Linked DNA regions of Homo sapiens. The protein of the gene in region 2 interacts with the protein of the main gene of each other region in a pairwise test. Each region holds a gene or a part of one and is shown on either strand. Other genes may lie near its edges.

The links.
Region 1: the proteins of LRRC61 (region 2) and NDUFS1 interact in binary tests that used the Homo sapiens proteins (3 or more experiments, as listed by UniProt).
Region 3: the proteins of LRRC61 (region 2) and PKN1 interact in binary tests that used the Homo sapiens proteins (3 or more experiments, as listed by UniProt).

What each region holds. Positions count from the first base shown.
Region 1 is NC_000002.12:206,142,429-206,146,081, forward strand, and holds part of NDUFS1 (NADH-ubiquinone oxidoreductase 75 kDa subunit, mitochondrial isoform 1 precursor), read right to left. Parts: intron 2,599-3,653; coding exon 2,464-2,598; intron 1,705-2,463; coding exon 1,590-1,704; intron 404-1,589; coding exon 258-403; intron 1-257.
Region 2 is NC_000007.14:150,335,866-150,338,669, reverse strand, and holds the end of LRRC61 (leucine-rich repeat-containing protein 61), read right to left. Parts: intron 1,953-2,804; 5' UTR 1,809-1,952; coding exon 1,029-1,808; 3' UTR 514-1,028; downstream 1-513. Other genes in the region: RARRES2 (retinoic acid receptor responder protein 2 precursor), read left to right, coding at 1-45.
Region 3 is NC_000019.10:14,439,792-14,443,444, forward strand, and holds part of PKN1 (serine/threonine-protein kinase N1), read left to right. Parts: intron 1-485; exon of another isoform or gene 486-499; coding exon of another isoform or gene 500-538; intron 539-1,351; coding exon 1,352-1,652; intron 1,653-3,653. UniProt on the Homo sapiens protein: PKC-related serine/threonine-protein kinase involved in various processes such as regulation of the intermediate filaments of the actin cytoskeleton, cell migration, tumor cell invasion and transcription regulation.

The DNA.
Region 1 (3,653 bases), on a different chromosome or scaffold from region 2:
GGTCTCAAACTCCTGCACTTAGGCGATCTGCCTGCCTTGGCCTCCCAGAGTGCTGGGATTACAGGCGTGAGCCACTGTGCCTGAGATACTTAGTGATAAGTGGATTCCTCTATTTCCTACAACTTCTGGTTTGATCTTGGTCTATATATGAAAATAAACTGGGGGATATGTTGGAGAATCCAGGTTGTCACATTTTATACATAACTTGTAACTAAAAAAAGAAAGGAAAGCCTAGATCCTAGCTTCATATTTCTCACCCAGCTCCTGCAGTGGGGAAGACCTCTTCAGTGCATAAGGTGTCAGAGTCCACTCTATTAAGCAAATCTTTGAGAGCTACCAGGGCTTCAGCATCCACCAAGCCACCTGCAATTGCTGCCACATCTTTGCCTTGAAAACTCTGCAACTAGAAACAGATGAAAAGGGCATCACCAAGAAACCTACACGCAGCAAAGACCACAATGAAATGTTCAGAAAATAAAACAGTACTTGTTTTCAAGTACAAAAAAAGTTAACAGACTTCTGATTAAAAGTTTTACAACATGCCCAGGCACACTGGCTCATGCCTGTAATCCCAGTACTTTGGGAGGCAGAAGTGGGCGGATCACCTGCAGTCAGGACTTTAAGACCAGCCTAGCCAACATGGTGAAATCCCATCTCTACTAATAATACAAAAATCAGCTGGGCATGGTGGCATACGCCTGTATCCCCAGCTGCTCGGGAGGATGAGGCAGGAGAACTGCTTGAACCAAGGAGGCAGAGGCTGCAGTGACCCGAGATCGAGATCGCGCCACCGCACTCCAGCCTGGGCGACAACAGCAAAACTCCATCTCAAAAACACAAAAAAAGTTGTACAACAATTATTAATTAATCTAAAAGTGAAAAGCTGCAGAGGTGTTATGTGGGGCCACAGCTAATAACATCAACTTAGAAGGAAGCTGTTTTATATTTAGGAACAAAGGCACTTCAAAATGAGGTCTGGAGAATGAAGTGGAACTATAGTTACCTTAAATGCGACCTCCTCTGAAGTATCTGCCTTTCCCTCTAGTGCTTTATGTTGTCTTTCTCTAACAAGAAAACTATTCCCTCCACTTGTACTCTGGCAAGCTTATATTCATTCTCAGATTCTTCTTTAAGAATCACCTTCTGTAGGAAGGCAGCTTTTTTTTTTTTTGAGATGGAGTCTCGCTGTGTCACCCAGACTGGAGTGCAGTGGTGCGATCTCGGCTCACTGCAACCTCCAAGGAAGGCATCTTGATATGCCTGTCCTAGTTAGGCATTCCTCCTACGTGCTCTCACTCATATTACTCCTTATATAATTACTCATAGCTGCATATAATAATTGCTGAATTGTGCAACTTTCTCTACTACAAGATTGTAGGATGCAGGAATGATGTGTCTCTGGTCTTTATATCCCTTAATAGCATAATATCTAGCATATGTCCTCAGTAGATGTCTGTAAAATGGAAGGAGATTAAATCATAATCTTGGTAAAAGTAAAAAAGGGAAGAAATATACATCCCCCCCTTCATGGCAAAGATGTTTCTTGATAATCACAAACACTATTTAACACTATTTATTTCAAATTTTACCATTCCAGCTACGCGAGAGAGCGCATCCTCCCAAGAAGTATAGGTTAAAAGCCCTTTTTCATTTCTGACCATTGGCTCGGTAAGTCTTTGACGTTTTAGCCCATCATAGGCAAATCTAGAAAACAGAAATTACACCATTGTGGAATCTTGCTAAAGAAGTAACTATAATTTTCAAGTTAAATCAACAAGAAATGTTATTTAAATACAGTACTGGTTAAAGTGTCAAATATCTAAACACCTAGATACAAGTAATTATTCCAGATATTTTTAGAGATGAACTAATAGATTTTATGAACTTCACCTAAAACTAAAATACCATCTGAAAGTTTGATTTCTTCCCTTAAATCATACAAAAAAAAGTTTGATTTCTTATACTTTCAGCTAACTGAACAATCTTAAAATTACAACACAAAAAAATCTGACAGCTAAAAAAGTCAAATCATTTTTATTTACAAAGCATGAGTATCTCTAAATATTTTATCAAAATTATATTGTGCAAACTCTTCTATTCAGCTTCTTTTTCAAGCAATCATCCCACCTCGGCCTTCCAAAGTGCTGGGATTACAGGTGTGAGTCACTGCGCCCAGCCTAGCTTCTTTTCTCTAATGAACAAACTGAAATAAGTTGAGAATGTATCAATCTACTTGAATTTCTCCATGTGGGAGGAAAAAATATCTTTCTCAAAGTAAATACAATATCCAGGGATTGACCTAGGACTATTAAAGTCAGTATTATCACATTATATAAGCAACTCAGATTCCAGTAGTCTATATTCAGTAACTAATTTGCAAATATAAAAGATAATTCTTCAAAATTATTATAAAATTTCCTTTAAATAAACTGTAAAAGTTAAGGAAAACAATATAGCATATACCTGGTTTTATCAGAGATCCACTCTTCATTGATGTCCTCATGCATACGTGGCAAAATCCTCATCACTTCTCCAGTTCTTGTGCTAACCACAATATTACTTCCAACCGCATCCATTACATCAATGGATTCTGTCTTTCTGAGAAACACATACGGTGTTTACTATGGTGCTTTTGGGAATAAAGAAAGTTTCTGTTACCTGGTTTACCAAAAAATTTTTTTTACAATTAATTCCCTTTCTGAATTACTTTAAAAAATGAAGCTTAGAGGAACTGCAATTAAATAAAAGAACCCCCCACCTTTTTTTTTGCCCTGGGGTCTCACTCTGTTGCCCAGGCTACAGTGGCATGATCATAATTCACTGCAGCCTAGAACTCCTGGGCTCAAACTATCCTCTCACCACATTTTAAAAATTTTTTGTAGAGCCGGTGTCTCATTATGCTGACCAGGCTGGTCTTGAACTACTGGTCTCAAGCAATCCTCCCACCTTGGCCTCCTAAAAGCTGGGATTATAGGTGTGAGCCACTGCTCCCGGCACACCCACATTTGAACACATAAATTCCTGGCACAGTAAGGAAGGCTTTAAAACTATTATCTGACACAGAAGCTAGTTTGAAGGGGCTCCAACTAGCCAAATCTGGGACGATTCAACAAGAGGGGCAGGATTTCTGTCTATGGGAGATTAAGGAGCTCAAAAAACCTTCCCACTGAAAAGCAAAAGTAAAGCTGGCCAAAAATGACAAAACCCACCATTTCAGCAGTTTAGAAATCTAAACACATACAATGTGGGAAGCTTTTATGCACTGAAAAACTGGTGGCTGGGCTCAGTGCTCCTCCTATGCTCCTCTCCACCCCCTCAAAATGGAATTTCTTCGAGGCCGGGGCAGGCTGTGAAGATGAGAACTTCTTTGGTACAGATGGAGACAACTCACTTAACTTGGAGCACGAGGCAAACTTGTTTGTGGAGGTGATACTTTGGAGGTCATCGTAGCTGAGGATAGCCAAGATTTTACCAGCCTAAGTTTGTAGTGGTAATTGCGGCAAGCATTCCTAACAGAGGCTGCTACATGTGCAGGTGAAACCAGAGAAAGCTCAACCTATTCATAAACTCCTGGATAACTCTGAGACCCAAAGGGCCCAGTGCAAAGTAATAGCTGGGCAAACTTGAAAACAGCCTCAACTTTGAATATGCTC
Region 2 (2,804 bases):
TTCCCTGGACAGTTCGCCTTCTCCAAGGCCCTGCCCCGCAGCTAAGCCAGCACTGGTAGGCACCAGGGGGCTGAGAGCACCGTCTGGATGAGGCCAGCCCTGGGAATGCTGAGGGGCTGGGCTGGGCTTTGGGAGCCTGGGAGGGGACAGGTCAGAAGCCTGGGAGGAAAGCTGGGACTGGGGCTGAAGCAACCTCCCTCACCCCCAAACCTGTTTCCCCTTTTGTCTAGAGATGCGTGGTGCCTCCAGGACCGCTGCGGGTGGTAACCAGTGGAAGACCCCAGCCCCCAGGGAGAGGAACCCGTTCTATCCCCAGCCATGATAATAAAGCTGCTCTCCCAGCTGCCTCTCAGCTCCTTGTGTTGCACGACTTCCTCCTTAGCGTAGCTCAGAGGCGGCCAGAGAGGGCAGGGGGACAGGACCCTTCCTCTGGGACCCCTTCCTGTGGGCAGGGTGAGCAGAGCCTCCTGTGCTCCAGAGCCAGAGGTGCCCCCATGAAATGCCAGGCAGGGATGCAAATGAAAACAGAAGCATTTAATAGATGTGTGGACAAGAACGGGCAGAGAAGGTGCTGCGGGGAGGGGGTAAGTGCAGGAGCAGTCTGGAGAGGCACATTTGCAAGGCAGGGGAGTCCCACTTCCAGGAGTGCTCTGGGCCACTCAGCCTGCCTACTGTCTCCCAACAGCTGAGACGGGAGGCTGGCCCATCCCTACCTTTCTCGCCTGTAGCCTCAGGAGGAAGTAATTCCTTCCACTAAGTTGCAGGCTGGAGCAGCCCAGAGTGGCAGCAGCTGCGGACACAGGCTCACGGATGTGGGAGCCCTTACACCTGCTCACAGCCCTTCAGTCTGTCCTTGCAGCATGTGGAGGGATGGTGGGGAGGGGCTGCTCTCAGGATAGGGATAAAGCAATAGCCCAGTGTGCAGGGCCAGTGACCAGTGTGAAGCAACTAAGACGAGTGTGGGGGCAGAGAGGGGAACTGGGGGCAGCGAGGCCACCTGCCAGGCTGTCCTGGGCCATAGGCCACGTTCAGAAGACGAAGGAAGAGGTGGGGCCCGCAGAGCTGAGTACCTGCTCCGCCTGGGCCAGGCTGTCGCTGGCCTGGCGGTCCAGGTCCCAGCACTCCTGCAGTGTGTCCTGGAACTGCCGGCAGGCCTCCTCCAGGATGGAGCTGCTCCGGCTGGGCCAGGACTCCCAGTAGCCTGGCTCCACCCAGGGCTGGGCCTCGGTGGCTCTGGGGCCTGGACTGGAGCTGGGACGCAAGGAGCTGTCCAGGTCTCGGCACAGCTGGTAGAACTCACTACCACGCCCAATCACACGCTCACCGTCGATGACTTTCAGGCCAGGCAGCAGCTCCCGGACTGCAGCCCAGTAGGAGGGGTTGGCACAGAGCGGGTTGCTGAGCCGGGCCAAAGGGTCTCGGAGCCGCAGGTACTCCAGGCACGGTAGCCCAGCCAGACACTGCAGCTGGCCCGGGGTGGCCAGTAGGTTGCCTGCGGCATTGAGACTCTGCAAGTTCTCACAGGTGGCCAGTGGCTCCAGGCCCGTCAGCCGATTGTTGGAGACATTGAGCACAGCTAGCTGGCGCAAGGAGGCCAGCGGGCCCAGGTGGGTGAGCGCGTTGCCTGATAGGTCCAGCCACTCCAGGCCCAGGCACTCTCCCAGGCAGCCCAGGTCAGCCAGTCCCAAGCCACGCAGCTTCAGTAGCAGGATGGACTCCAGGGAGAACTCGCCTGTGCGTGACTTCAGCAGCTGGGGTGTGATCTGCAGTCCGCCAGCCTCTCCCGGCTTCTCCGCTGGAGGGTCCATGAGATGGAAGTCGGTTGGGATGGCCTGGGCCCTGGCAGGACTGTCACAGGGTTCCACTGGGGGTCAGCTGGTGCTCGCCCTGGCTCTACCCAGGCCAGTGCCAGGAGGCCTGGTTCCGATGCCCTGCTCGAAGCCAGCCAGTCCCTGAGGAGAGACAGTCAGTCAGCAGGCAGCACTTTCTGTGTCTTACGCAGCAGGTGACGGCAGGGAGTCTGACCCTGCTTTTACCATGAAAACCAACAATCTCAGCCAGGCAAGACCTGAAGACCAAGCTGGGACACAGGCCACAAAAGCCATCTGAGTGACAGGGATGGGGTGCAGGCCCAACCCAAGGGGAGCAGCCCAGACTGGCCCTGGCTGGTTAGGGCCATGCTGGATGGATTCAGGCCCAATATTACCAGTTCTTCCTGTCAAATCCAAACTAGGGGCAAAACATTATTTTACTTTTTCCGTAACCACTCACGATCCATCCCTATTAGTTTTGGGGTGTTTTTTAAACCGTTATTTTTGAATAGGCAATAGGTAACCACCATCACCAGTTTCTTTTGTTTTCTTTCTGGGATAATCAATGTATATGCAATGCAAACGAGAGCACATGTGCCTTGTTTGATTCACTCAGTATTACTGCAATTCTTTCTAACAGCAATGAATTCAAACTTGTTTCCAGATTATATGGGTCAGCTGGTACCTCTGGTTGGAGCTGTAGAGCATAAGAAGTTGGCCTTTAGTCCTGAAGGAGAAAACTGAGGTCAAGGTAGTGAAGGGACAGGGAAGGCTGGGGTAAGTGGCCTGGCTAGGTCGCACACCCTTGCTCTCACTTCACTGCCCGCCAAAGCTAGCTCTTTTGCTCTGGACTCAGCTGGACAGATCAATGGAACAGCACTGATATACGTGCCAGACAGCACGGTGCCAGCTGCAAAGACAACATAAATTTCCCAAAGGGCAGGCTGTCTTGGAGGGAGGGAAGGGTGGCTCCAGAAAGCCGGGAGGGGCACA
Region 3 (3,653 bases), on a different chromosome or scaffold from region 2:
ATCCCAGCTACTTGGGAGGCTGAGGCAAGAGAATTGCTTGAACCTGGGAGGCGGAGGTTGCAGTGAGCCAAGATCACACCAGTGCACTCCAGCCTGGGCAACACAAAGGGAGACTCTGTCTCAAAAAAAAAAAAAAAAAAAAAAAAAGGAAAGAAAAAGAAAGCGTGCAAACATTTGTGAGCCTGTGTTCTGTGCATATCCACATATGTATTTGAAAGTTAGTGCACACTCAAGTCAGCCCTCGGAGCCTGCGTCCCCTCATGGATACACCATGAGTGTGTGAATGTACAAACTGCCTGCACCTTGGACATTCTCTAGGGACAGGGAGCAAGGACTGTCCCTGGGTTTCATCTAGAGGAACAGGAGGTCCCTTAGATGCCCTGGAGTTGGCCCCGCGCGAGGGGTGCTGGGAGTTGACAGGAAAGAGGAAGTGGCAGCCGAGAGGCCCTGGTGGGGCTGAGGTTCAGGAAGAGGGCGGGGCCCTCAGCCCGGACCCAGGATGGCGGAGGCCAATAACCCCTCGGAGCAGGAGCTGGAGGTGGGGTCCAGGGTCCCTGTGGGGGCAGGCAGAAGGGGGCCCCAAGTGGCACAGGCCAGTAGTCCTTCCCCGGGTACTTCTCAGTTTGGGAACAAGGAGAGGAGATGGGGCACTGGCCTCAGAGTTCTCTCTCTGGAGGATGAGAGTATCCAGTGCCCTTCGGGGCTCCCAGATTGGGGAGAGACAGAAGGAAGGAGACCGGGCTCTGTTCTTTAGGGTCCCAGTTGTTGAACATAGGAGAAGAGCAGATGAGGGTCTTCAAGACCCCATAGTTTGGGGGTACAGCAGAGAGAAGACTTGGCCTGCCCTTGGGATACCCTAGTTTTGGGGGTGTAGCCAAGGAAAGATGAGGCCTGCCCTCGGGATGCCATAGTTTCAGGGTACAAGTGAGGGAAGATGGGGCCTGTCCTCAGGACCCTGTAGTTTTAGGGGTACAGCAGAGAGAAGACAGGGCCTGCCCTTGGGCCCTCTTAGTTTCGGGGAGCAGCAGAGAAAAGAAGGAATCTTCCCTTGGGACCCTCTAGTTTGGGGGAGGCAGCAGAAGGGAGACAGATCTTATTCTTGAGACCCCCTTAATGTGGGGGACGCTGTGGTGGTGGGGGTGACAAGGCCCTGCTCTTGAGACCTCCCAGTTTGGGGAGGTCAGGAAGCAGTGGCAAGGCCTCGTCACCTTCCAGTTTTGGGAGTCAGAGGAGGTAGAGCAGGCCCTGTCTTGGGAGCCCCAGTCCAGGGCAGAGGCTGGGCCAGGCTGGCTGCATGTGGTCTGCACCTGGAGTTCTCCTAGCTCCACTGACCCTGTTCTGTCCTCCGCAGAGTGAGCCTCGCAGCTGGTCCCTGCTAGAGCAGCTGGGCCTGGCCGGGGCAGACCTGGCGGCCCCCGGGGTACAGCAGCAGCTGGAGCTGGAGCGGGAGCGGCTGCGGCGGGAAATCCGCAAGGAGCTGAAGCTGAAGGAGGGTGCTGAGAACCTGCGGCGGGCCACCACTGACCTGGGCCGCAGCCTGGGCCCCGTAGAGCTGCTGCTGCGGGGCTCCTCGCGCCGCCTCGACCTGCTGCACCAGCAGCTGCAGGAGCTGCACGCCCACGTGGTGCTTCCCGACCCGGCGGCCACCCACGGTGAGCTGGGATGCCTCTGGGGATGCGGGACTCCAGGGATTCCACTGCTCACTGGCTCACCCATGGTCTCCAGAGCCAGGTTAACCCATCTCCACGGACCCCCAGGGAGATGCATGCCATGACCCCCGTAGCCACCAACACCCAGAGAGGTGCATACAGCCACACCAGCACCCGGTAACACTCAAGACCGTGCATGCTGTCACATGAATACCTCTAGACACAGCCACGCCAACACCCAGGCAACATTCAAGGATGTGCATGCAGTCACACAAACACCTAAAAAAACAGCCACACCAACACCCAGGCAACACCCAAGGGTGCACATACTGTCACACGAATACCTCCAGACACAGCCACGCCAACACCCCAGGCAACACTCAAGGATGTGCACACTGTCACACGAATACCCAGAAACTCCCACAGTTACATGGATGATAACCAAAGACTGTTTATTTTTGTTTTTGTTTGGAGACAGGATCTTGCCTTGTCACCCAGGCTGGAGTACAGTGGTGTGATCAAAGCTCACTATAGCCTCAATTTCCTGGGCTCAAACAATCCTCCCACCTCAGCCTTCCAAGTAGCTGGGACTAAAGGCATACACCACCATGCCTGGCTAATTTAATTTTTTTTTTTTTTTTTTTTTTTGTAGAGAAAGGGTCTTGGTATGCCGCCAGGGCTTGGCTAGAACTCCTGGCTTCAAGTGATCCTCCTGCTTTGGCCTCCCAAATGCTGGGAATACAGGCGTGAGCCATTGCACCCAGCCTGTTTTTTAATTTAAAACATTTTTATTGGTTTTAACATTTTTTTTCTTTTTGAGATGGAGTCTTGCTCCATCACCCAGGCTGGAGAGCAGTGGTGCAATCTCAGCTCACTGCAACCTCCACCTCCCAGGTTCAAGTGATTCTCCTGCCTCAGCCTCCTGAGTAGCTGGGACTATAGGCTTGCACCACCACGCCCGGCTAATGTTTGTATTTTTAGTAGAGATGGGATTTCACCATGTTGGCCAGGCTGGTCTCAAACTCCTGACCTCAACTGATCCACCCACCTCAGGTGATGTGCCTCCCAGAATGCTGGGATTACAGGTGTGAGCCACCTCACTCAGCAGCTTGAATTTTTTTTGGTGGGGAAGGACAGAGTTTTGCTCTTGTCACCCAGGCTGAAGTGCAATAGCACGATCTCGGCTCACTGCAACCTCCACCTCCCAGGTTCAAGTGATTTTCCTGCTCCAGCCTCCCAAGTAGCTGGGATTATAGGCATGAGCCACCACGCCTGGCTAATTTTTGCATTTTTAGTAGAGACGGGATTTTGCCATGTTGGCCAGGGTGGTATTTAACTCCTGACTTCAAGCAATCCGCCTGCCTCGGCCTCCCAAAGTGCTGGGATTATAGGTGTGAGCCACTGCGCCCGGCCTCAGTCATTTCTGCACCCAGGGTCCCCTCAAGCATCACACCACTCTCCAGAGACTCATGCAGACACATGCATCCGGATGTGCCAACACCCGGAGACTCAGTCATACCAACCTGGAGATCTGAACTCACAGTTGTAGCAACAGTCAGAGATGTACGCAGAGCATCTCCCAACACCCACAATCTCAGACAGTCATTCTAACACATGGCGTCTCACAGAGTTACACTAACACCTAGGGAAACACACACTCAGCCATGCCAACACCCTGCAGCTCACAGATGGCACCACTCCCACACCCATAGGCTCACACAAGCCATGTACGTAGTTACTCATGGGCCTCTCAAATGCAGTGGACCCAGCACCAAGGACACACTAACACACCTGGGTGCTCGCCTGCACTCATTCATCCTGGGTTCTGCCCCAGCCCCGAGGGGTTTCCCTGGGAGGGTGGGTGGGTAGACTGCTGGGCCCTGGTGTCCCCCTGCCTGCCTGTCTGCTGGCCCCCAGCTCCCCCTCCTCCATGCCCCAGGGGCAATGCCCAGGCTGGGCTGAGGATGAAGCCTCCCAGGCAGGCCGAGGTGAGGATGCGTGGTG